7 linked regions of the Homo sapiens genome follow. The protein of the gene in region 1 purifies or fractionates together with the protein of each later gene. This does not show direct contact. Each region holds a gene or a part of one and is shown on either strand. Other genes may lie near its edges.

Evidence for each region.
Region 2: the proteins of ALDH3B1 (region 1) and OBSL1 purify together in Homo sapiens (affinity purification with mass spectrometry; 4 studies listed by BioGRID and IntAct, with this or other methods). This does not show direct contact.
Region 3: the proteins of ALDH3B1 (region 1) and TLK2 purify together in Homo sapiens (affinity purification with mass spectrometry; one large-scale study listed by BioGRID and IntAct). This does not show direct contact.
Region 4: the proteins of ALDH3B1 (region 1) and DMWD purify together in Homo sapiens (affinity purification with mass spectrometry; 2 studies listed by BioGRID and IntAct, with this or other methods). This does not show direct contact.
Region 5: the proteins of ALDH3B1 (region 1) and ZMYM4 purify together in Homo sapiens (affinity purification with mass spectrometry; one large-scale study listed by BioGRID and IntAct). This does not show direct contact.
Region 6: the proteins of ALDH3B1 (region 1) and TRIM65 purify together in Homo sapiens (affinity purification with mass spectrometry, with the first as the bait; one large-scale study listed by BioGRID). This does not show direct contact.
Region 7: the proteins of ALDH3B1 (region 1) and PPM1A purify together in Homo sapiens (co-immunoprecipitation; 3 studies listed by BioGRID and IntAct, with this or other methods). This does not show direct contact.

Annotation. Positions count from the first base shown.
Region 1 is NC_000011.10:68,020,327-68,023,826, forward strand, and holds part of ALDH3B1 (aldehyde dehydrogenase family 3 member B1), read left to right. Parts: intron 1-1,158; coding exon 1,159-1,545; intron 1,546-2,268; coding exon 2,269-2,435; intron 2,436-3,500. UniProt on the Homo sapiens protein: Oxidizes medium and long chain saturated and unsaturated fatty aldehydes generated in the plasma membrane into non-toxic fatty acids. May have a protective role against the cytotoxicity induced by lipid peroxidation.
Region 2 is NC_000002.12:219,552,384-219,554,539, reverse strand, and holds part of OBSL1 (obscurin-like protein 1 isoform 1 precursor), read left to right. Parts: coding exon 1-66; intron 67-853; coding exon 854-966; intron 967-1,515; coding exon 1,516-1,672; intron 1,673-1,842; coding exon 1,843-2,004; intron 2,005-2,156. UniProt on the Homo sapiens protein: Core component of the 3M complex, a complex required to regulate microtubule dynamics and genome integrity. It is unclear how the 3M complex regulates microtubules, it could act by controlling the level of a microtubule stabilizer.
Region 3 is NC_000017.11:62,477,525-62,481,624, reverse strand, and holds the start of TLK2 (serine/threonine-protein kinase tousled-like 2), read right to left. Parts: upstream 2,801-4,100; 5' UTR 2,335-2,800; intron 2,182-2,334; exon of another isoform or gene 2,148-2,181; coding exon of another isoform or gene 2,012-2,147; intron 858-2,011; exon of another isoform or gene 838-857; intron 505-837; coding exon of another isoform or gene 500-504; coding exon 419-499; intron 1-418. UniProt on the Homo sapiens protein: Serine/threonine-protein kinase involved in the process of chromatin assembly and probably also DNA replication, transcription, repair, and chromosome segregation. Phosphorylates the chromatin assembly factors ASF1A and ASF1B.
Region 4 is NC_000019.10:45,786,346-45,789,845, reverse strand, and holds part of DMWD (dystrophia myotonica WD repeat-containing protein), read left to right. Parts: intron 1-2,974; coding exon 2,975-3,500. UniProt on the Homo sapiens protein: Regulator of the deubiquitinating USP12/DMWD/WDR48 complex. Functions as a cofactor that promotes USP12 enzymatic activity.
Region 5 is NC_000001.11:35,383,709-35,387,208, forward strand, and holds part of ZMYM4 (zinc finger MYM-type protein 4), read left to right. Parts: intron 1-1,733; coding exon 1,734-1,884; intron 1,885-2,365; coding exon 2,366-2,481; intron 2,482-3,294; coding exon 3,295-3,500. UniProt on the Homo sapiens protein: Plays a role in the regulation of cell morphology and cytoskeletal organization.
Region 6 is NC_000017.11:75,891,208-75,893,951, forward strand, and holds part of TRIM65 (E3 ubiquitin-protein ligase TRIM65), read right to left. Parts: intron 1,644-2,744; coding exon 1,548-1,643; intron 1,333-1,547; coding exon of another isoform or gene 1,294-1,332; coding exon 1,060-1,293; intron 979-1,059; coding exon 804-978; coding exon of another isoform or gene 672-803; coding exon 606-671; intron 141-605; coding exon 1-140. UniProt on the Homo sapiens protein: E3 ubiquitin ligase that plays a role in several processes including innate immnity, autophagy or inflammation.
Region 7 is NC_000014.9:60,296,904-60,299,587, reverse strand, and holds the end of PPM1A (protein phosphatase 1A), read right to left. Parts: 3' UTR 501-2,684; downstream 1-500. UniProt on the Homo sapiens protein: Enzyme with a broad specificity. Negatively regulates TGF-beta signaling through dephosphorylating SMAD2 and SMAD3, resulting in their dissociation from SMAD4, nuclear export of the SMADs and termination of the TGF-beta-mediated signaling.

The sequences.
Region 1 (3,500 bases):
GGGTTCAAGTGATGCTCATGCCTCAGCTTCCCAAGTAGCTGGGGTGACAGGCATGTACCACCACGCCCGGCTAATTTTTTGTATTTTTAGTAAAGACAGGGTCTCACTCTGTTGCTCAGGCTGGTCTCGAACTCTTGGCCTCAACCAGTCCTCCTGCCTTGGTCTCCTAAAGTGCAGGGATCACAGGCATGAGCCACCACACCCGGCTTCGAGTTTTTGAGCTAGGGAGGGGCAGAGGGAGCGAGAGGAAGACAGTGGTGCTGGCAGGCGAGTCTGCGCCTTACAGGTCGAGGCAGTCGTGGGGAAGGGCCTGGCAGGATTGACCTGGCCGCCTCCCAGCAAAGGCAAAGGAGCCCTGGAAGGAACCACAGAGCCCAGGAAGCACTGTGCCAGGATGGGGCAGGGGTGAGAGTAGAGAAGGCACAGTGGCTCCTGCCGGCTTTAATCCTTGACCACAAGGGGGAGAAATGCCAGGGCCATCCCCACAGACGCAGCAGCGTGGTCCCCGAGTCAGGTCTGGAGAGGAGGCCTTGAGGCCCAGACAGGGCTAGGGCAGAGAAGGCTGTGTGCATGCGGAGACTGCTGGGCCCCTGGAGGCCAGCACAGAGGAGAGGTGAGGCCAAGCCAGGCAGGACATGGGGACGCCTGCATCAGCCTGGGACAGTCCACCTCAAGGGTCAGAAAAAAAGGGCTGGGCAGGTGGCAGAACTTCCAGGTTTAGGTTTAGAGAAGAGAGACCTGAATGCCGTAGACAGAGCTGGACTCCATCCTTGGGTGATAAGGGATCCCCGAAGTTTCCAAAGGAGATGGGTGGGGAGGGGTTCCATGCAGCATTTTGCAAAGAGTCCCCTGCAGGGTCAGCCAGGGTCACAAGCAGAGGCGGGAGGAGCCAAGGGGTTTGGCTCAGCAGGGGGACCCTGGGGGCCGATAGCAGCCGTGCACCATTCCCTCCTGAGACTCTGTGCTTAGGGGCTGGTCCTGATGAAGGATGAGCAGGGCCCTGGGCTGCAGGGTGGCAGTGAGGAACAAGGAAAGGCCAGGCGAGGGCTGCTGCCCGCTGACTCCACCACCTCTCCAGGGAGGAGCGGGGCCGTGGGCTGGGCCATCCCGCCTGGTCCAGGTCACTGAACGGCCACTCTGGTTTCCTTCCATGCCCAGGGAGCCCTCGTGTGGGCAAGATTGTTATGACTGCTGCCGCCAAGCACCTGACACCTGTCACCCTGGAGCTGGGGGGCAAGAACCCTTGCTACGTGGACGACAACTGCGACCCCCAGACCGTGGCCAACCGCGTGGCCTGGTTCCGCTACTTCAACGCCGGCCAGACCTGCGTGGCCCCCGACTACGTCCTATGCAGCCCTGAGATGCAGGAGAGGCTGCTGCCTGCCCTGCAGAGCACCATCACCCGTTTCTATGGCGACGACCCCCAGAGCTCCCCAAACCTGGGCCGCATCATCAACCAGAAACAGTTCCAGCGGCTGCGGGCATTGCTGGGCTGCGGCCGTGTGGCCATTGGGGGCCAGAGCGATGAGAGCGATCGCTACATCGGTGAGTCCTGCTGCCCCTACCACAGCCCACCTGGGCCAAGACCCCTCCTCACTGGAGGGCCCAAGGCTGGGCCACAACTCTGGACCCGCGCCTGAAACCTGGCCCCACTGCCAGAGCCCGGCCTTGAGCCACAGCTCCAGTGCCATGATTCCGTCTCTGTGCTTCTAAGTCTGTGGCCCTATGAGGCCAAACTCTGGTCCCTCACCTTGGATTCGCTGAGCTCAGATCCCAGGGCTCCAGGGCTCAGCGTGCTAAGATGAACTCCCATCCCACCACTGGCTATCCTGAAAGGCTGTAACCTCAGATTCTCCGAGCCCACAATCCCCAGGTTCTAAACTCCGAGAGTCCCGTCCTGAGCCCCCAGTCTCCTGGGCCGTACGGCTCAGCAGCTCATGGGACACTGCGGCGCCAACATTCTGGGACGCTGTTGCCTCATGAACTCCAAGGGTTCTAAGATCCCATCACCCCTGACTGTGAGACCAAGGTCGGGGGATTCTCTGTGTCCCACAGGCCCTGAGCAGGCTGGGGAAGCTCTAGAGTCCCTTCTGGGGGGCTGTGGGGAGACTTTCTTCCCTAAACACTCCAAAGCCTGAAGCCTTGGGAAGTCAGACCTTGGGATCCTGGCCTAGAGCCCTGGCCTGTGGCCCTGTCCCCACCTCTACCCCCACCCTGGGGGCGGTCCTGACTGTGGCCCCAGGGCTGAGCTGTCTCTGGTGCCTGCAGCCCCCACGGTGCTGGTGGATGTGCAGGAGATGGAGCCTGTGATGCAGGAGGAGATCTTCGGGCCCATCCTGCCCATCGTGAACGTGCAGAGCTTGGACGAGGCCATCGAGTTCATCAACCGGCGGGAGAAGCCCCTGGCCCTGTACGCCTTCTCCAACAGCAGCCAGGTGGGGGTGCGGCCGGGCTGGGCAGGGTCAGGAGCCCGCAGTGGGCAGCACAAGTGGTGGCAGCAGGGGGGGCACCAAAATCCAGTGGCTTCAGGACTTTGGGATGGTGGACCTCTTGGCTCTGTCTCTGCCCACTCTCCTGGAAGCAGCTGAGCCTCACCCACCCCAACCCTGTCCCCAGTCTGGGCCCCACTCTCCTAGGCCTTCAGTGGGCAGCTTCCTGGGGTATGGGCCTTCTCTAGGGTCCAGTGTTTCCTCTAGGTCAGCCCCTGCCTTTGTCCTTCTTACACATCGGGGCCTGGTGGCCACATGACCCCTCAAGCCTGGCTCTGAAGGCACAGGCAACGTGTCGGGGATGACCCAAAGGTGCAGGTCCAAGAATGAGCCCTGATCCCCTACCCCTGCTTAAGCTGCAGAGGCAGCCTGGGAGGCCCAAGGCCAGAGTCCTCAGATTAAAAAACACCAAGAGGTACCAGCAGTCCCTACCCACCCCGCCCCCTTCCCCGGCCCTCAGCCAGTTCCTCGATTCCCTCCACTTGAACTTTTTTTTTTTTTTTTTTGAGACAGAGTCTCACTCTGTCACCCAGGCTGGAGTGCAGTAGCACAGTCTTGGCTCACTGCAACCTCTGCCTCCCGGGTTCAAGCGATTCTCCTGCCTCAACCTCCTGTGTAGCTGGGATTACAGGCGTGTGCCACTATGCCCGGCTAATTCTTTGTATTTTTAGTAGAGATGGGGTTTTGCCACATTGGTCAGGCTAGTCTTGAACTGCTGACCTCAGGTGATCCACCTGCCTCGGCCTCCCAAAGTGCTGGGATTACAGGGATGAGCCACCGTGCCCGGCCACTTGAACTTTTTTTAAATAAACTTTGTATTGGGAAATACTTTTAGATTTACAGAAAAGTTGCCAAAATGGTACAGAGAGTTCCCATGTACCCCACACCTAATTTCCCCCATTTAATGGTGCTTAGATGGGTCAAAACTAAAAAAGTGATGGCAGGGCTGGGCGCGGTGGCTCACACCTGTAATCTCAGCACTTTGGGAGGCCAAGGTGGGAGGATTGCTTG
Region 2 (2,156 bases), on another chromosome or scaffold:
CCGACTCAGGCTGTGTCTCCTTCACAGCGGATTCCCTGCGCTGCGCAGCCAGACTCATTGTGAGAGGTGTGGCCTCCAGGACCACAGCCTGCCTGCTGACCTGTGTGGCCCTACTTACCCCAGGCATGAATACTGACCCCCAACTCGTGTGACCCCCACTGACCATGCCTGTCTCAGTGTGGCCCTCATTGACATCCCTGCCAGAGTGTGATCCCCCTGACTCATAGGCCCTGTGTGGCCCCAGAGTCCTCTGCCTGGGTGTGGCCCCTGACTGCCCAAGGCTCAGCCAACCACTGACTCTGCTACCAAGAGCATGCCTTTGCCATTGTGGTCACTGCTGTCTGCCCGCCTGCACACCACCCCACTGACCACTCTAACTGTGACCCTACTGGCTACACTGTCTGCCGTGGCTCCCTCTGCCCGCCTAAGTGTGGGCCCCGTGACCACTCCAGTCCCTTGAATCCACTGACTGCCTACGGGCGACATCACTAGCAAGTCTGCTTGAGTGTCCCCCATTTTTACTTCCAGTCCCAGGATGTTCCCACTGACCACTCCACTGGCATCTCTGCTTGTTTCCCCATTGCCCTCTGGCCCCCAGCTTCTCCCCCACTGACCACCTTAAAGTGTGACTCCCAGTTGGCCACTCCTAACCCATTGGCCCTGTGGCCCTGCCCACCTACATCCCCCCCACCCCCACCACTGACAGATCCTTCTTGGACCACTTGTCCCAGCTCGAACCCCACTCGCTAGTGTCCTCTACTGCCTGTTGTGCCCAAGTGTATGTCCTCCTTGTCCCTGCAAGATGGGTCCCCATCCTGCTCCCTCTGCACTGTCCTCCCTCTCCCACCCCCAGAGGTCCCAGTGACCATCGTGCGGGGGCCACACGACCTAGAGGTGACCGAGGGCGACACAGCTACGTTCGAGTGCGAGCTTTCCCAAGCTTTGGCTGATGTTACCTGGGAGAAGGTCAGATCCCAGCCCCAGCCAAGCCCACTTCAGTGTAACACCAACGATAATAATGCCCCAGACAGAAACAGCTAATATTCCTTGAGCGGATGTGCCTGGCACTGTGCTAAGATTTGCATTATATTTAATCCCTTACTCCAAGGACAACTCTAGGAGGTAGGTCTTGTCACTGTAATACCTATCAGGAAACTGATGCTCAGTGGGAAAAATTACCTACCCAAGGGCAGACAACAGGTAGAGCCCATATTCGAATCCAGGTTTGCCTAACTCCAGAATCCGTGCCCATGTCCCCTGTGATCGATACCTGGCTCTGGGCTTCCCGAGTGCCTTGGCGGCCCTAAGGTCCCCAAAGGGTGACGCTTTTTCAAAGAGGCTCCTGGCACGACCCCAAAGGCTTGGGGACAGTCCGACCCCAGCCTGGGAACACGAGACACGCATAAACGCGCCTCGAGACCGCTTGGCATCAACAAAGGGTGCGCCGCCTGCCAGGGCCGGGGTCGCCTGTGCCCAGCCGGGCTCGCCCCGACCCTCTGCAACTCCCGCCCCTAGGACGGGAACGCGCTTACGCCTAGCCCGCGGCTCCGGCTCCAGGCCCTCGGCACGCGCCGCCTTCTCCAGCTGCGACGCTGCGGCCCCTCGGACGCCGGGACCTACAGCTGCGCGGTGGGGACGGCCCGCGCCGGACCGGTCCGCCTGACCGTGCGCGGTGGGTACGGGGTGATGTGGAGGCTGGGCACTGCTTTGGGCGCGAGACTTGCGGAGCTGTCTTCCCCGGACCCTGATGACCGCGCGTGCTTCTAGAAAGGGGGCGTGGAGGGGGCGTGACCGGTAACTGCCCTCTGCCCCGCCCCGCTCACGCCCCGGGCTCCGCCCCAGAGCGTACTGTGGCGGTACTCTCCGAGCTGCGGTCGGTGAGCGCCCGCGAAGGCGACGGCGCTACGTTCGAGTGCACCGTGTCGGAGGTCGAGACCACGGGGCGCTGGGAGCTCGGAGGCCGCCCGCTGAGACCCGGAGCCCGCGTCCGCATCCGACAGGAAGGTCTGCCCGCCTGGTTACCCTTTCGGGCCCCTCGCTGCCCCGCCCAGGCTCGAACAGATCCCGCCCCACCGGGACAAGCCCCGCCCCTGGCTCCGACGGGCCCCGCCCCACGGCCCTGTGAGCCTCGTCCCTGTTCTTTCCCCCGCCCCCAG
Region 3 (4,100 bases), on another chromosome or scaffold:
CAGACTTCACAGAGGCCAATTTTTCAATACTCTACCATGTAACTACCTCCAAAGTCCAATGTAACAAAGCTATGCAATGCCTTGTAATTTTCTTTCTGAATGGCTGACAAGTTTTAACAAAATATGGCATAGAATCTATACACACATCCTGTTAGTTTCCTTGTAACAAGAACCATGAGAAACCTCTCCTATACCAGAAAGGAAGAAGAAACATATATTCCCATATAGAACATTTTCAAACCTACTATGTTAAATGACTACTGGAATGACCAGTAGGATCTAAAAGTTCACTGAAATTAAGACCCAAATCTTCTCCCCTGCAAACTATCAGAAGGGCCTACCCAAATTGCTCTTAATCATTTAAAAAATGTGTTTAAATTAGAATATGAATAGTGTTCATGATCATCATTTTACTCACCTTACTAACACCTACTCCAGTAAACCTGGCCTCCAATAATTCCTGCCGTCGTGGGTCCAGGCTATGCAATTCTTCCATCATTTCTGCTGAAAAAGAAAAAGTAGGCTGTGAAACCATAAACACTAAAATGTGAGGAGGCAATTTTCTGTAGAACAAAACTCACAGTAATTATTTCACTGAAAGATCAAATGCAGGTAAATCTCAAGTAAATATAGCATACAAGTGGTAGACTACTATGTGCTGCATCAAACAGTAATATATTGAAAAGTTTTAAAGCAGCTCAGAAGTCCTCTTCTATGACAGCCACTTTTTCTTCCCTAGTTCTGATTTGATTTTAACAGCAAAAATAAACCCCTCAAACCCTTCATATAATTTCTGTAAAAGTTGAGCACAGGGGAAAGAACAAAACAAGAACTAGCCTGCAAAAAGAAAATTCCTTCTATCAGCCTTAATCTAGCTAAGTATCTTCAGATATTTATTTCCCACTCAGGAAGTAGTCCTTAAACTAAAAATATGAATCATTGACAATAATTTCAAAAGAATATAGGATGAATCAGAAGCTACAAATAACTGCAAAATCACTATTATACAGCTCCTGTCTCTGAAGAGCTCACAGTAGCTCATGAGAAAAGGAATTATTTTAAATTTAATAGAGAGCCCACGGTAAAACCATCCACCTCCATTCACTCAGTAAATTAATATAGCTCCATAACAATCCCTTTAAAAAATCTTTTTCTGACCACTCCCTGCAGTAGTTTTCTCTTGATTCTGGACATCTGCTTTTAGCCCTTCTTCCAAGCAGGGAGGGGCAGGAGGACACCATTTTTAAACTTCCATAACCAATTAATGCACAGGCTACTTTCAGCAAATATGTTCATCCTTTGCAAGAGACCAACTCCTACACGACCCATTTAAAACCTCTCTTTAATATTAACAGTGGAAAAGAAACATATTACATAGAACCCCTTCGAACACATTATTAAGTAGTTGGAATGGTTGGTGTGATTTTAAAGTTACTGAAAAGATGAATCGAACATTCTCCTCTGCAATCCAACAACTCTACAATCTCCAGTAACAACCCCCTTACAAGTCCTTCAGTTTCATTTCCCTTCCTGGATTGAGAGCCTGGGGCAAAGGGGAATGAAAAGGTGACAAATTAAAGTTTCACCCACACATGCAAGTGCAGGTTAGAGAGAGAATTAGGAAATTCTCAGAAAGGTTGAAATGCATCTTTACAAAAAGAAAAAGAAGGAAAAAAAAGAGACTGGGAGAATGAGTTTCCCCCGTGGCCTTCCTCGCGTCTTGCCCTGCCCTAATCGAGGTCGGAATGGCAAAGGTTGCAGTCTCTCCCAAACCCCAAGGTCTCTCGCAACACTTCCCAAACCTCCATCCCCAGGCCCGGCCCGGAAAATGACGCCCCGGCGGTTATTCCGTTTAATGTCAACTCATGTTAAGGAAATAGCCACTCCGTCTAATTCCAGCGGGGCCTTGGACTGGGATCCTCCCTGCAGCCCACAGCCGGGAAGCAGGAGCGATGGGGCCTGGTCCCGGCGCCCCTCGCCGGCTCCAAACTTTCCCCAACTCCAGGCCCACCTGTCACGGAGGAAGGGAGGGCCGGCTCTCGGGGGCGCCCGGGAGGCTGCCGAGGCCTCCAGCTGCCTGGGGGCCCCCGTCTCTCCTCCGGCCGCCGGCCCCAATCCCAGGCCGGGGCCGCCTGGGCCTCCCCCATCTTCTGCCCGGCCCCTCAGCGACCCGCAGCCCTCAGGGAGCCCCTCCCGCCTCAGCGCCCAGGAGCTGCGGTCCGGAGCCGGCCCCGAGCTGGGCCCAGGTCGCAGGCTCCTCAGGCCAAAGGGGTCCCCAGGACGGTTAATGCCCCAGGCCTGGAGTCCTCCCCCGCCCGGGGCTCAGCCTCTCACCTGCCGCCGCCGCCGCCGCCGCTCCACGCTCCTCCCGGGAGGGGCCCCGACCCGACCCGGCTGCGGACCGCTCCGCTCTCCCCCTGGGCAGGCCCGGGGCGGAGCCGGGGCCTCTCCTGAGCGCCGCAACCCCCCGCCCGGGCAGCCGCCGCCGGCGCCGGGCTCCACGAGAGGGCGGGCGGGGGAGGGGGGGCACGAAGGCCGCAGATCCCCGGGCTCGCGTACAGAGCCAGGCGCCCGACGCGGGCCCGGGCCCGGGCGGCCGCGGGGGGCGCGGGACCGGCCTCCTGGCGCCGGACAAAGGCCAAGGGAGGCGCAGGAGGGCCCAGGCCGGGCCAGGAGGTGGGGGCCCGCTCGGCTGGGGGCCACTCGGGTGCGGCGCGGAGGGCGGGGGGGTCGGAACCGCTGGTGCCCAGGACCCGCCTCCGGCCCCTTAATCCGGATCGGTTCGGTCCGGATTAGTAGTGATCGGTGTAAACACACTAGTGAAACCGCGTGTTTCCTCGCGAGATTTGCACGGCTGGGAGGCGGGGGGGGTCCTGGGGGGGTGGGGGAAGCGCCGACAGTGGGGGAGCAGGGGGAGGGGACGAGGAAGGTGGGGGGGGGTCCCCGCTGCCCCGGCGCCCCGCCTTCTCCAATCAGCGGCCGCGCTGCCGGGCAGGGGTTAACCAGGGGACCCCGCGCCGGCGGAGGAAGCCGCGCCTCGCCGGACGGCTGAGGGCGGGCGACGGGCGGCGCCGGCTGACGGGCCGCAACGCGAGGGGAGGTCCGGCGGCCCGGGGCGCCCTGCGACTGCCCGAGGCCGGAGGCCCGGAGGACCCGCCGCCGCCTTTGTGTCGCCGGCCCCCGCCCCGCTGGACTGGCCCGGGCCGGGGCGGTTGGGCCGGCGCTGAAGGGGCTTGGCCGCCCGGGTCCACCCGTTCCCGGATCCGCCTCGCCGGCCCCCGCGCCCGCCCAACCCCTGCCCAGCCCCTCGGCTCCGCGAGTTTGGGTGAGAAGTGCGGCGGCTTTTCCCAGGGATGGAGTTTAGAGGACGCTAATCCTATGTGTGAGCGGCGGACCCCGCCCGGACTTCCCGGAGGCGCCCGGTTAGTGAGGCGACGGCGCCCACCCGCGTTCGCGGGCTCCCGGCCGCCACTCCCCGGAGCCGCCGGCCCGCCCCAGCCCCGCGCGTCGCCCGGGAGGGCGGGCTGCACTCCCTCCACGTACCTGGCTGGCAGAGCGTCTCCAGGGACAAAAGGTGCCCTGGGATCAAAGCCGAGCCCCCGCCCCCGCGGGGATGCTGCCCTCCGGAAGGAGGGGCGCTGCCCCCAAGGTACTCTCCCCGGGCACCCAGGGGGAGGTTCCATTTCAACCTCCGATGAAAAACACGGCCCTCCCGGGTACTTAGGAGGGTCTGAGGGTAAGTGCCAAGATGGAGAAAACACGCCGGCCCCTCACAGAGTATCTCCTGAGGAATGAGAACTATCTAGCGGGCAAGGAGGGCTTCCTGCATAGCAGAGGGCACCCCCTCTGATCCCCCAAGGCCAAGGGAAAAAAATCACTCTTCACCGGCGCCCCTGAGCCAGGACAGGCTCCAGTGCAGCCACCCACCTTATAATTTTCCGCGGATGCTGCCTTGATCAGATGTCTGAAGATGACTTTAAGGACTACAAGCAAATCTCAAGGGAAAAATTCAGACCTTGAACAACAGCCTTGAACTTTTTCAGGGTTAGACAAGTACTCCCCAGTGGAGTTTCTGCCCTTATTTCTTCGTTCTTCTCTTA
Region 4 (3,500 bases), on another chromosome or scaffold:
TGGGGTTTCACCATGTTGGCCAGGCTGGTCTCAAACACCTGACCTTGTGATCCGCCCACCTCGGCCTCCCGAAGTGCTGGGATTACAGGCATGAGCCACCGCGCCCGGCCATTCTTTGAGTTTTCATCAACCAGTGGATACAGAAGTGTGCTGCCCATTTTGCAGATTAGAGAATTGAGGCTAGTAAATAAGTCGGGACTTAGTTGATGCCCTTGCTCTTTGAGTTCTGGGCTCTGGAGGCTTTGGATTCAAAGCCCTGCTGCACCATTTACTCATCATGTGACTTTGGGAAGGTGACCATTCTCTGAGCCTCACTTCTCCTCCTCTGCAAAATGGGATTCCAGTTCCTACCTTGCAGGACCGCTGTTGTAGAATCATACATGGAGATTGCTCAGTCCTGGGCCAACTTGGCCTACGAGGAGATACCAGTAAACGACCTTATCCGCGGGCAGGGACTGCTCTTGGCTTCTGTCTCATTCTCTCTGGTCCAGAGGAGGTGTTCCATAAATATTCTCAGAATGAGTGAATGGCTGAAGGGAGTGAACGGAACAGTCAGTGGATTAAAAATTCATTAGCTCATCCATTCACAAATAGTTTTTGAGCATCCGTTCTGTGCCAGGCACCGTTCCCAGCACTAGGGATATCACATCTCAGGGCCCTGGACAGGAGGCCCTGCCCTTTTGGAGCTTTCAGTCTAGCTGGGGAGACAGACAGTTAATCAAGTTAAGTCTTCGTGTGTCAGCAGGTGATTAAGGCCTGTTTAGAAGAAGCAGTGGGGAAGGGGCTGAGGGAAGCTTGGAGAGTTTAGTAGGGTGGTCAGGAAAGCCCTCACTAAGAGGTGATACTGAAATAAAGACCTGAAGGAGGCAGGTGAGAAGAGTTGCCTGGGGAAGGGCATTTTTTTTTTTTTTTTTCCTGAGATAGGGTCTCACTCTGTCGTCCATGCTGGAGTGCAGTGGTACGATCTTCGTTCACTGCAACCTCCGCCTCCCAGGCTCAAGCAGTCCTCCCATATCAGCCTCCTGAGTAGCTGGGACTACATGCATGCACCACCACAACTGGCTAACTTTTGTATTTTTTGTAGAGGCGGGGTCTCTTTGTGTTGCCCAAGCTGGTCTCGAACTCCTGGGCTCAAGCTATTCTCCTGCTTTGGCCTCCCAAAGCGCTGGGATTATAGGCGTGAGCCATCACACCCAGCCAAGAAGGACATTCTGAGTATCGGGGCCAGCTAGGACAAATGCAGGATTGCACAGAAGCCGTGTGGCCAGTGCAGTTACTGAGGGAGAGAAGATGGTAGATGAGTTCCAAGAAATAACGGAGGGGCTGGCTCATGGAGAGTCTGGAAGGTCACGGAGAGATTTTGCCTTACTCTTAGTTGGAAGCCTGTGGAGGAGCCTTTCTCATTGGGGCTCACCTGAGCCCTGGAAGGCAGAAGTGACTAGAGTGATTATTTGTTCAGTTCTCCCAGGGATGGGAGGCACCTCATCCTGGGAGAGCAGCTCCTTAGTTGCATACACTGGCTGCCTGAGAGCATTAGGGCCTCAGGCTCTGGAACCCTGCTTGAGAGAGGCTGCGAAGTGTTCAGAGCAGGACAGTGCCAGGTGCTGGCTGATACTTCACAGAGCATCGCTGTGGCGGCTGCAGAGGACAGACAGGCCCAGGCATTGGAGCCTGAGGCCAGTCACACAGCATTGCAGGCTTGGGGTGGTTGAATGGGATGGTGAGAGGAGGTCAGATTCTGGGTGTATTTTTTCTTTTTTTTTTATTTTGAGGTGGAGTCTCGCTCTGTCGCCCAGGCTGGAGTACAGTGGCATGATCTCCCCTCACTGCAACCTCCGCCTCCCGGGTTCAAGCAATTCTGCCTCAGCCTCCTGAGTAGCTGGGACTATAGGCGCCCGCCACCATGCCTGGCTAATTTTTGTATTTTTAGTAGAGATTTTGTATCTCTACTTGTATTTCACCATATTGGCTAGGCTGGTCTGGAACTCCTGACTTTGTGATCCGCCTGCCTCAGCCTCCCAAAGTGCTGGGATTACAGGCGTGAGCCACCACGCCCAGCCACTTCTGGGTGTATTTTGAAGGTCGAGCCCACAGGATTTGTGGAAGGATTGGATGAGGAAAAGAGGGGCAGATGCCGAGGTTTTTTGTCTAAGCACCTAGCGGGATGGGGGGTTGTCACTCATTTGTCCAGGAATTACCTTCAAGCTGCCTCCTGTGTGCACTGCTTTAAAGAATAGTGAACCAAACAAAGATCGCTTCCTTTGGGGAGCTGCCTTTCCGTGAAGAAATTTCCTACTTGAAGCCTGACGTAGTAAAGATCGGGGGAGGGTTAGACAGATACAGTGGTCCCCAACCATTTTGGCACCAGGGACTGGTCTTATGGAAGACAGTTTTTCCACAGACTGTTGGGGGGATGGTTTTGGGATGAAACCGTTCTGCCTCTGATCATCAGGTGTTAGATTCTAATAAGGAGCGCACACCTAGATCCCTCGCATGCATAGTTCATGGTGGGGTTCGCACTCTTACGAGGATTGAATGGTGCGCTGCTCCGGTAGGAGGCTGGGCTCAGGCTGTAATGCCTGCTCGCCCACCACTCACCTCCTGCTGCATGGCCTGGTTCCTAACAGGCCACGGACCACTACTGTTCCATGGCCCGGAGGTTGAGGACCCCGAGATACAGGACAATTCTGTGGCAAGCAGGACTGTCCCCTCGCCAAAGATGGGACATCGAGGCTCCTTGGAGCACCCTGTGGCCACCTTGCAGCAGCCTCTGTTTCCCCATGTTTCCATGACCTGGTGTCCATCTGTCTTCCCCAGTTTGGGAGCTTCTCTCCGAGGAGGACCTGGGCCTGGTGTGGCACCTGCTGTGTGAGCGGGGCCATGTCCAACGGCCTTCTTGGGGACTTTGGGTCGGGGAGAAGTTCTGCCTGGGTTTTACTGCCTTCTCCCAACCCCACACTGTCTCCCCTGGCAGCGGTTGATCGACAAGACCAAGGTGACATATCTGAAGTGGCTGCCTGAGTCGGAGAGCCTGTTCCTGGCATCACACGCCAGTGGCCACCTGTACCTGTACAACGTCAGCCACCCCTGCGCCTCGGCCCCGCCCCAGTACAGCCTGCTGAAGCAGGGCGAGGGCTTCTCTGTCTATGCTGCCAAGAGCAAGGCACCCCGCAACCCGCTGGCCAAGTGGGCGGTGGGTGAGGGGCCCCTCAACGAGTTCGCCTTCTCGCCCGATGGCCGGCACCTGGCCTGTGTGAGCCAGGATGGCTGCCTGCGCGTCTTCCACTTCGACTCCATGCTCCTGCGTGGGCTCATGAAGAGCTACTTTGGGGGCCTGCTGTGTGTGTGCTGGAGCCCTGACGGCCGCTACGTGGTGACGGGTGGCGAAGATGACCTGGTCACCGTGTGGTCCTTCACCGAGGGCCGCGTGGTGGCTCGAGGCCATGGCCACAAGTCCTGGGTCAACGCTGTGGCCTTTGACCCCTACACCACAAGGGCAG
Region 5 (3,500 bases), on another chromosome or scaffold:
TAATTTTAAATTTATTCTTTACTTTTAATTTAGTCAAAACCTATTAAATTTTTCATGTATTATATCTGCTGTGGTAGAGAAAGAACTGGAATTTAGAAGTAAGGCAGATCTACATTTAATTCTAGACCTTATGTTCAAATACAGTTTTACCTTGGGGAAAGCAGTTAAGCTCCCTGAGTCCCAGTTTTTCTGTCTGTAAATAACTATGATACCACCTATGTCACTGGGATGTTTTTAGGATTATAGAAAGTAAGAATGAAAGAATGCCTAGTATGTAACTGAGGCATTGTAGATGGTCATTTCTGCTACCTTCCTTTCTTCCTTATATATAATTCATTCAACAAACATTAGATATAATTTCTGTTTTGAGGGGCTGCCTGTCTCCTGAGAAAGATAAGACGTATAAATGAGTAAATAGAGATGCTATGATGGAAGTATTATGGGTACAGTGGGCCACAGAGGTAGCATAGTGAGCTCTACTTGATAGGGAAAGATGAGACTATCAGCAGAAGCTTCACAGAGGTAACTCTTGATCTGGGTCTTACAAATGAGGTTTGCTTTTACAGTCCTCATTAGGGAGGAGAGGGAAATGGGGTTAGAGATTTAGAAGACATTCCAGAATTCAGGCATATATTCACTTTACTGTGTATTTATTTTAATATCAAGTTTTACAAATTGATTCTTTAAGAAGGAAGATTGCTCTTAAAATCTCCTAATTGGTGCTGGACGTACTTTAAAAATTATCCTGAATGTGTGACATGTTAATAATACTTAGCATTATTTGCTGCTGAATCCCTAATTGGGTGAAGACTTAAGATAACGGACTCTGGTTGTTTGTATTTGGACACCTGTGATGATATCCCAGGTTTGCTCTTACTTTACGCTTATGGAGTATTTTTTTTATTATTAGTGGTAGAATATTTGCCAATAAGTTGCCTAATAAGGTTACTAATTTCCTTAAATTCATATTTACAAGCACCTTTGGAGGGGGTTATTTCAATTTATAGGATGATATAGTATAAAAGCATGAACTTGCTGTTATTTAATGTTTTTAAAACTGTGGTTATGACCTATTAATAGACCCTGAAATTAATTACTAGGTTATAACCAGCATTATTATTTTTTTCTTTTTCTTTTTTTTTTTTTTTTTTGAGGTGGAATCTTCTCATTCTGTCGCCAGGCTGGAGTGCAGTGGCACGATCTCAGCTCGCTGCAAGCTCTGCCTCCTGGTTCACGCCATTCTCCTGCCTCAGCCTCCTGAATAGCTGGGACTACAGGCGCCTGCCACTATGCCTGGCTAATTTTTTTTGTATTTTTGTAGAGGCAGGGTTTCACCATGTTGACCTTGCTGGTCTTGAACTCCTGACCTCAGGTGATCCACCCACCTCGGCCTCCCGATGTGCTGGGATTATAGGGGTGAGCCACTACGCCTGGCCGCATTACTTTTTCAATGAAATAGAATAGATTGGAAAATATCAAAGTGCATTACATGTTATCATGATATTTATTCCTCTATAAAACTTTTTAGTTTTATTACATACATGCATCATACACAAATGCAAAATCTCAGAAGTACATGTGTACCATGAAACTTCCTATTGAGGATTACAATCATAAAAGTTTGAAAATCACTGATTTCAAATATTTCAAAAGTGTTGAGTATAAACATTTCGAAGAATTATGCTTTTACTAGGAATTTGTTAAAAATGAATGTTGTTTTATTCTCTTAATAGAAATCAGCCAAAATTACACCGTGTGCGCTTTGCAAATCATTGAGATCCTCAGCAGAAATGATTGAAAATACCAATAGCTTGGGGAAGACAGAGCTTTTCTGTTCTGTTAATTGCTTATCTGCTTACAGAGTTAAAATGGTTACTTCTGCAGGTAATATTGGTTTCACAAACTATGAAATGCAATGGTTGAAAAATAATGGTTATTGCTTTGTTTTTAACGGTTTTTTTTGGTTGATTTTTAAGGCACATTTAACATATTTCAGATATTTGTTGTAAAATATCACCTGTTACCTTGATTGCTTATTTATTTACTTGCATACCTATTTATGCATTTCCCCCTTACCAAAAGAATTTCATATGGCTTCTTTAATATATTTTCTTTTTCCCTACCTAATTTCTTTGAAGTTTCATTTATCTGGTAGTTTCAGGGTAGACTTTGACCAATTTAAATTGGAAAGAAACATTTTCAGTATTATGTTAGTTTTTGTCTATATGTGACATGATTTAGTTTCAGTTCCTACAACTTACCCTGGCTCTTAAATTTTCTTATATTGTATAGTATTATTTAATTTCTCATACTTTTGTGTACATTTGTACATATTACTCATTGGTTTTTATTTTGATTTGCTAAGGTGTACAAGTTCAGTGTAACAGTTGTAAAACCTCAGCAATTCCTCAGTATCACCTAGCCATGTCAGATGGAAGTATACGCAACTTCTGCAGCTACAGCTGTGTGGTAGCTTTCCAGGTATGGCTTCAGGAACCTTCCTCTTCTTCAGTCAGTGAGTCACCTACTGTATGAGTCTGTTCTTGCACTCCTCTAAAGAAATACCCTAGACTGGGTAATTTATAAAGAAAGAGGTTTAATTGGCTCACAGTTCCACAGGCTGTACAGGTAGCATGGCTGGAGAGGCCTCAGGAAACTTTCAATTATGGCGGAAGGCGAAGGGGAAGCCGGCACGTCTTACATGATGGGCTCAAGAGGAAGAGAGAGAAGCGGGAGGTGCTACACTTTTAAACAACCAGATAGTGAGAACTCACTATCACCAGAACAGCAGGGGAGAAATCCACCCCCATGATCCAGTCACTTCCTGCCAGGCTCCTCCCCCAACATTGGGGATTACCGACTGGACATGAGATTTGGGCAGGGACACGAATTCAAACCTATCACCTACTATAGTAATGCACATTTATTAGGTGTTTGCTAGGGCCTGGGTTGTATAAGTTTCTATATCATTCCTATTAAACTTGGATTTGTAGTTCATTCTGTATTTGGAATTTAATTTAACTGCCTTCTATAAAATTGAATGGTACTTTTATCACCCATATTATCTATTGGGAGGATATTATTTTTGAGGAAGATTATTAGTTAAGTTATTTTATTTTTTCATCATAAATGAGACTCCCCCCATTCCGTAATAAGCTGCTCAGAGGCAGGAACATTGCCTGTTAACAGATGTACCTTACATGCCTAGAACGGTGCTTGGCATATGTAGGCACACAATACTTCTTTGTTTTAACAAAGATTAAATTGATACTTTTTGTTGTTTTGTTTTTCCAGAATTTATTCAACAAACCAACTGGAATGAATTCTTCAGTAGTGCCCTTGTCTCAGGGCCAAGTAATTGTAAGCATCCCCACAGGTTCCACAGTGTCAGCCGGAGGAGGTAGCACATCTGCTGTTTCTCCCACCTCCATCAGTAGCTCTGCTGCAGCTGGTCTCCAGCGTCTCGCTGCCCAGTCCCAGCATGTTGGGTTTGCACGAAG
Region 6 (2,744 bases), on another chromosome or scaffold:
ACATTGCACCTGCCAGAGCTCAAAGCTGCCGGGCCCGCCTGGGCCCCGGGACTGACGACAGTGCTTCACCTGCTGGTCCTGGCGCGACAGATAGAAGTGACGGTTGGCGCTGACTGGATCAAAGGTCAGATTGCGATAATCTGTTGGGGAAAGGAGGACAGCAGTGGGCTGGGGGAAGACAGCACAACCAGATCTCCATTTATCCGCTGCTAAACCTCCGCCAGGCACGCTGAGCACCGGCCGTCACCATAGCACTTAATCCTCGCCACGACCTCGCAGGCGGAATCCTCTATCAGCCCCGTTCACAGCTGAGAAAACTGGGGCTCTGAGAGCCATTAACTCAGTGTTAAGTGGAAGAATTACGGGTCTGTGCCCCAGACTCTGTCCTTCAACGCACACTGGCTGCGTCTGCTTCAGGGTGGATGTGCACGAGGTGTGCAGCGGGTGGGACCAGGCTCAGATGTCCCGGCAGGACAGTCAAAACAAGTGCCCCCCTCACTCACACGTGCATACGAACATGCACACACACACGTGCTCACAGCACACACAGGCACTTCCTTGCACACGCACACACAGGGGCACACATACACGAACGGCCTCCTTACTCTGCCAGAGTTTCCTCCTCAGTGGACAAACTGTGCTTGGGACCGGTGCCAGGGGACCTGGGGCCTCTAGGGGGCAAAGCAGTGTTAAGGGAATGGTTGGAGAGGTCACGATGTGTGGGCCCTGACCCGCCTCCACCCCCCCAGCGGGAGGGGCAGCTGGACCCAGGACAGCAGGGGGAGGCCTGGGGTCAGTCTTACCCACGGGGGCTAAGTCCACAGGCTTGGCTGGTGCCCCAGGGTGGCTCCCCTCTTCCAAGAGGAGGCCACACAGCCGGCTTAGCAACTGCTTCAGGTCACCCAGCTGTTGGTCTTCATCCCACTGCAGAGGGGTCAGTGGCCCAAGAGGCCCTGGGGGCTGGAGGAGCTGCGATTCCTGAGCCCCAGGGAGAACAAGTAAGCCTGGGCCTGAGGGGCAGGGAAGCAAGTCCGCCACCTATGCCCTGAGCCCTCGCACCTGCAGGAAGGTCTGCTCATCCACCTGCTCCAGGAGCTCCCGGATCCTGCAGCCATGGCGAGCCACAGCCTCCAAATGGACCCGCAGCCGCTGCTCCTCGTCTCGAGCCTGTGCCAGCGCCTGCGTCTTGGCCACCTCGATGCTCCTCAGTGCTGTCGTGTGCTGTATTTCCAGGGCCTGTAGCAGGCTGCTGAACTTGCCGGAGACCCAGGAGGCCAAGATGCAGGCCGAGTTCTGGGCGGGAACAGGAGGGGCTTCAGGGTGGCCAGGGCCCTGTGCCATACCAAGGGAGGCTAGGGCCAGGGCTGCCTGCTGGGCTGAGGGTCAGGGATGTGGGGAGGCAGGGTCCCGGGAACCTCCCCAGGACCCCTGTGCCCAGCTCCCTGCTCAGCCCCGCTCCCTGCTGCCTGGTGTTCCAGGGACCAGCTGGTGGCCGCCCCAGGATGCAGTGTGAGGCCATGGTGGGCGGGCAGGCACAGGCCTCGTACCTGGATCTGGCTGCTTTGCTTGCGCAGCTCTAGTAGCTGGCCTTCGGCCTGGGTGGCCTGCTGCTGGGTAACCTCCAGGCTGGCTCTCAGCTGGGCCTGTGGTGCGGGCCCACGGGACAAGCAACAAGAGAAGGCCAGGATTGGCTGTGATGTCCTTTCTCAGACAACCAACCATGCCTGCAGACACCAGGCAGCCCCTCCCCACGCCACCCCAGGCCAGCCTCCAGAGCACCGGCCTCGGTCTAACCCAGGGAGAGTTGGGGCCGTGCCCCGGGGGGGTCCAGACAAAGTCCTTCCTAATCTGCAGCAGGGTGGTGCCTGAGCAGAGCGGAAGCCTTGGGCTCAGGACCCAACTTCCATTCCCATTTCTACCTCTTGCATGCTGAGCAAGCTGAGGCCAAGCACCTGTCCTCTCTGGGCCTAACCCCCCACCCATCAATACAGGAAAGCGATAATGCTGGCTCAGGAGGCCTCGCAGGGAGGACCCCAAACACTAAAGCCGTTGGTCCCTGTCTCACTGCAGAGGGGTCAGTGGCCCAGGAGGCCCTGGGGCTTGAGAAGCTGACTGCAGGGACCTCCCAAAGCACCAAAGCTGTCTGACAAGTGGGCAGTTACTTGCTGGATAAACTAGATTCTTCTGGGGATCCGGCCAGTCCCTGGCCCTAGTTTTGAGACTGAGAGGGGAGGAAGGGACCCCTATTCGGTTGCGCTCCCTGAGTCCCTTGGGAATCAAAACACCGTGCTCTCATGAGAGCAGGACAAACCACGCAGGTCCCAGGGGCTCCATTCCCAGCACCTGGTCAAAAGCTTCACCACCTTGTTTCTGCTCCTCCCGCAATGCACTGAGATGGGGACCATTACTATCCCCACATCACAGAGGAGGAAACGGGCTCAGAGAAGTTGATAATTTGGTCAAAGTCCTCAGATCTTCCTAAGCCCAGAGCTCCTCCGGGCCCCCAGCCTCCAGCATTTCACACAGGAACACAGGAGGCCGGAGGGCAGGCTCTCCCAGGGCACCCAACCCTCCCCCAGGGACAGGCACCCCCATGTCCCTTTCCCTCTCTCTTGCAAAATCCTGGCTCCCCTGGTGCTACTGGCTGCCCCTGTCGCTCCCTTCCTCCACATGGCCCTCATCTACCGGCCTCCAACTCAAACTTCCGTGCCTAGCTCAGTCTTCTGCACCCGCCCATGAGCAGT
Region 7 (2,684 bases), on another chromosome or scaffold:
GTTTAAGTCACTTTCAGACATGAATGAACACAGGATATAATATAGCCAATGATCAGAATTGGCAGAGGAAATAAACACCTCCTTTCTGCATCCTAGAAACACACACATTTAAGTGCCATTTTGAAGCAGGCACTATACCACAGATACCAGGTGAGGAAGTCCTTTCCCAGACCACTCCCAATTCCCAATTTCAACTCTTCAAGGGAGTAATCATCTACTAGAAGACAGACAAATGGGAATGTTCTTACCAAAGAGAAACTACTCTGGCTTCTTTATTTCTGGAATGTTTCATGACAATAACCATCAACTCAAACTTCTTGGCTTTCAGTAAACTTCCTAAAATTAGGAAGGAACAAATCTAGTTCAAATCCTATCAGATTTATTTCTCAGCTGAAAAAAACAATTCTTTTAAGGTCTTCCAACAGCTAATTTCAAATTCTCCACGTTTCTTGGAATAAAAATGCTGCTTGCAATATTAAACAATCATAAATACACACACATTATGTAATTGCCTGTTTATTTAGTGGCACCAGTTTTCCAAACTAGAAATTATTTCTACTTTTCATCTAACATACAATCTGCAACCATTCGCAGGCTGAATGCAATTTTTCAATGAACTTGAAAACAAACAGTACATTCTTAAAGTTAGAACTGAATTCACATATTTTCTTTGGACCAGGAAATAATACATAATACAAAATATACATTTATGGAATTTCTTTAAAAGTGTGGATCACATAAACTGCAAAGTGGGTGAGTTGCTACGGAGAATTTTGTTACACATTGTATTTAAGAAAAATATTTCTGCAATTATATTATTCTTAACATTTATAGAGTTTAAAAAATGAATATATAATGCAACATGCTTTTAACATGTACATGTCTCTCCACTCATAACATTTATACAAATTAAGTGATATAACTCATTTCAAGAGTGAAATCAATCACTATTGGGGCATATCACTACAAACAAGATATTTTCCTGCAGATATGCTATTTAGTCAAGGGATAACCAGGTAAGATAATGGTTTCTATGTTCCAGAAGTCCCACAAATGGGAATTAAATAAGCTGTCATTAAACATCTAATTTTGGCAACAAATGCAAAATTCTATACGTTTGTTACATTGTACTTATTATATTTTAGAAATCTCATTAACTGTGTGCATTGGTGGTGGTTGTCCGACTTGGATGTTATTTTAACATCCTGAATTAGTAAGTAAATAACCTAATTCCTTAGAATATGAAATGAATTGAACATTTAATGAATCCTAATACTAGAAAGCTCAAAATCTTAAAACCTGGAGATCTGACAGGTAAATAAATGTATTACTTGTTAATATAGTATATCTGCACTATGGAGGCCAAAAATGTTCCAGATACATTCCATTTCTGTTTTACCTCTTTTCTGTTGAATTTCTAAAGTGGCAAATCTTAGAGAAAGACATTAACCTCCAAAACTTCTGAATACTATGTTTTTTTTTCACCTTTTAATCACTTTCCCCACCCCAAATATAATATTTTTTAAAAAGTATATTTTAATGTCAGATTCTAGCCAGGTCCCCTATCTACCTCTAGAGTGAAACAATTCCTTAAAATAGACTCAAGTTATTTTCATGCCCTAGAAATATACTTTTGGGCTTTGCAGGAAAAGGGATGATGCCCTATTGTACTTTAGAATGGGCTCTTAACCAGGGGGCCCATGAACCACTACAATATTGTAAACTTTAGGGAGATATGTATGTTATATACGCATTTTCCTGGGTAAATAAGTCCCTAGGATTCATCAGTCTCAAAACGCCTGTGACCCCAAAAGGTTAAGAAGCATTGCTAAAATGATTTTGTGTCATTCACTGTACCTAATTAGGATATAACTAATTTTGTTCCGCAGCTACCCGATCTCTTACATCAATCTAACTTACTTTAGATAGTACCATACAAATGCACGTTACTAAATAGTCTTATACTGGATCAGGAGGACTATGTAAAAGAAAAAGAAAAACTCTAAACAACTTTTCTAAACATTTAGTTTAATGAGAAAACCATTAGTTGAAAACTGGGTTTTGGAGCAATGAAAAGAAATGAAGGGTTGGGTTTTCTAGTGAAGAAACATTGCATTAATTCTTCTCAGTTGTTTCTATGCTGAAGAATCAGTAACTTATTAATTTCCTTGCTGGAAAAATCAAATTATCTGAAGCAGCAAAGGTTCATTCTTGTTGGTTTATGTGACACAATAGTTCTTATAAATTTACAGCCACGTACAAGGAAGACTTTCCTATGGCTTTTAAAACAATTAAGAGTAATCCTTCCCTACCTATCCCACTGCCATTTCCCCATTCCTCCATCTCCCAAGTTTTCTCATTTTCAGCCCGGTTTAACACAGTATTAGCTGGCCTTGATGAAGTAACACACTAAGCTTTCTTGCTCAAGAAAATGGAATTGGCCTGTTTCTGTTTGAAAAAAAGAGAAAACACCAAGAGGAAAGTAGAGGAAACAAGGGCAATATTTCGTGCAGGATAAGGAAGAAAAAAAGTCCACTTTGTTGTTATATCAACTTAATCTTTTTTCTCCATCTCATAAAAATATAAGTTGTCAACTGTAATTTCAATACCATCTAAGTTTTTCTAATTAGCACTCCTACCTGCTAGTAATATAAATAGGAAAACAGTGAGAGCAGAAGCCACTA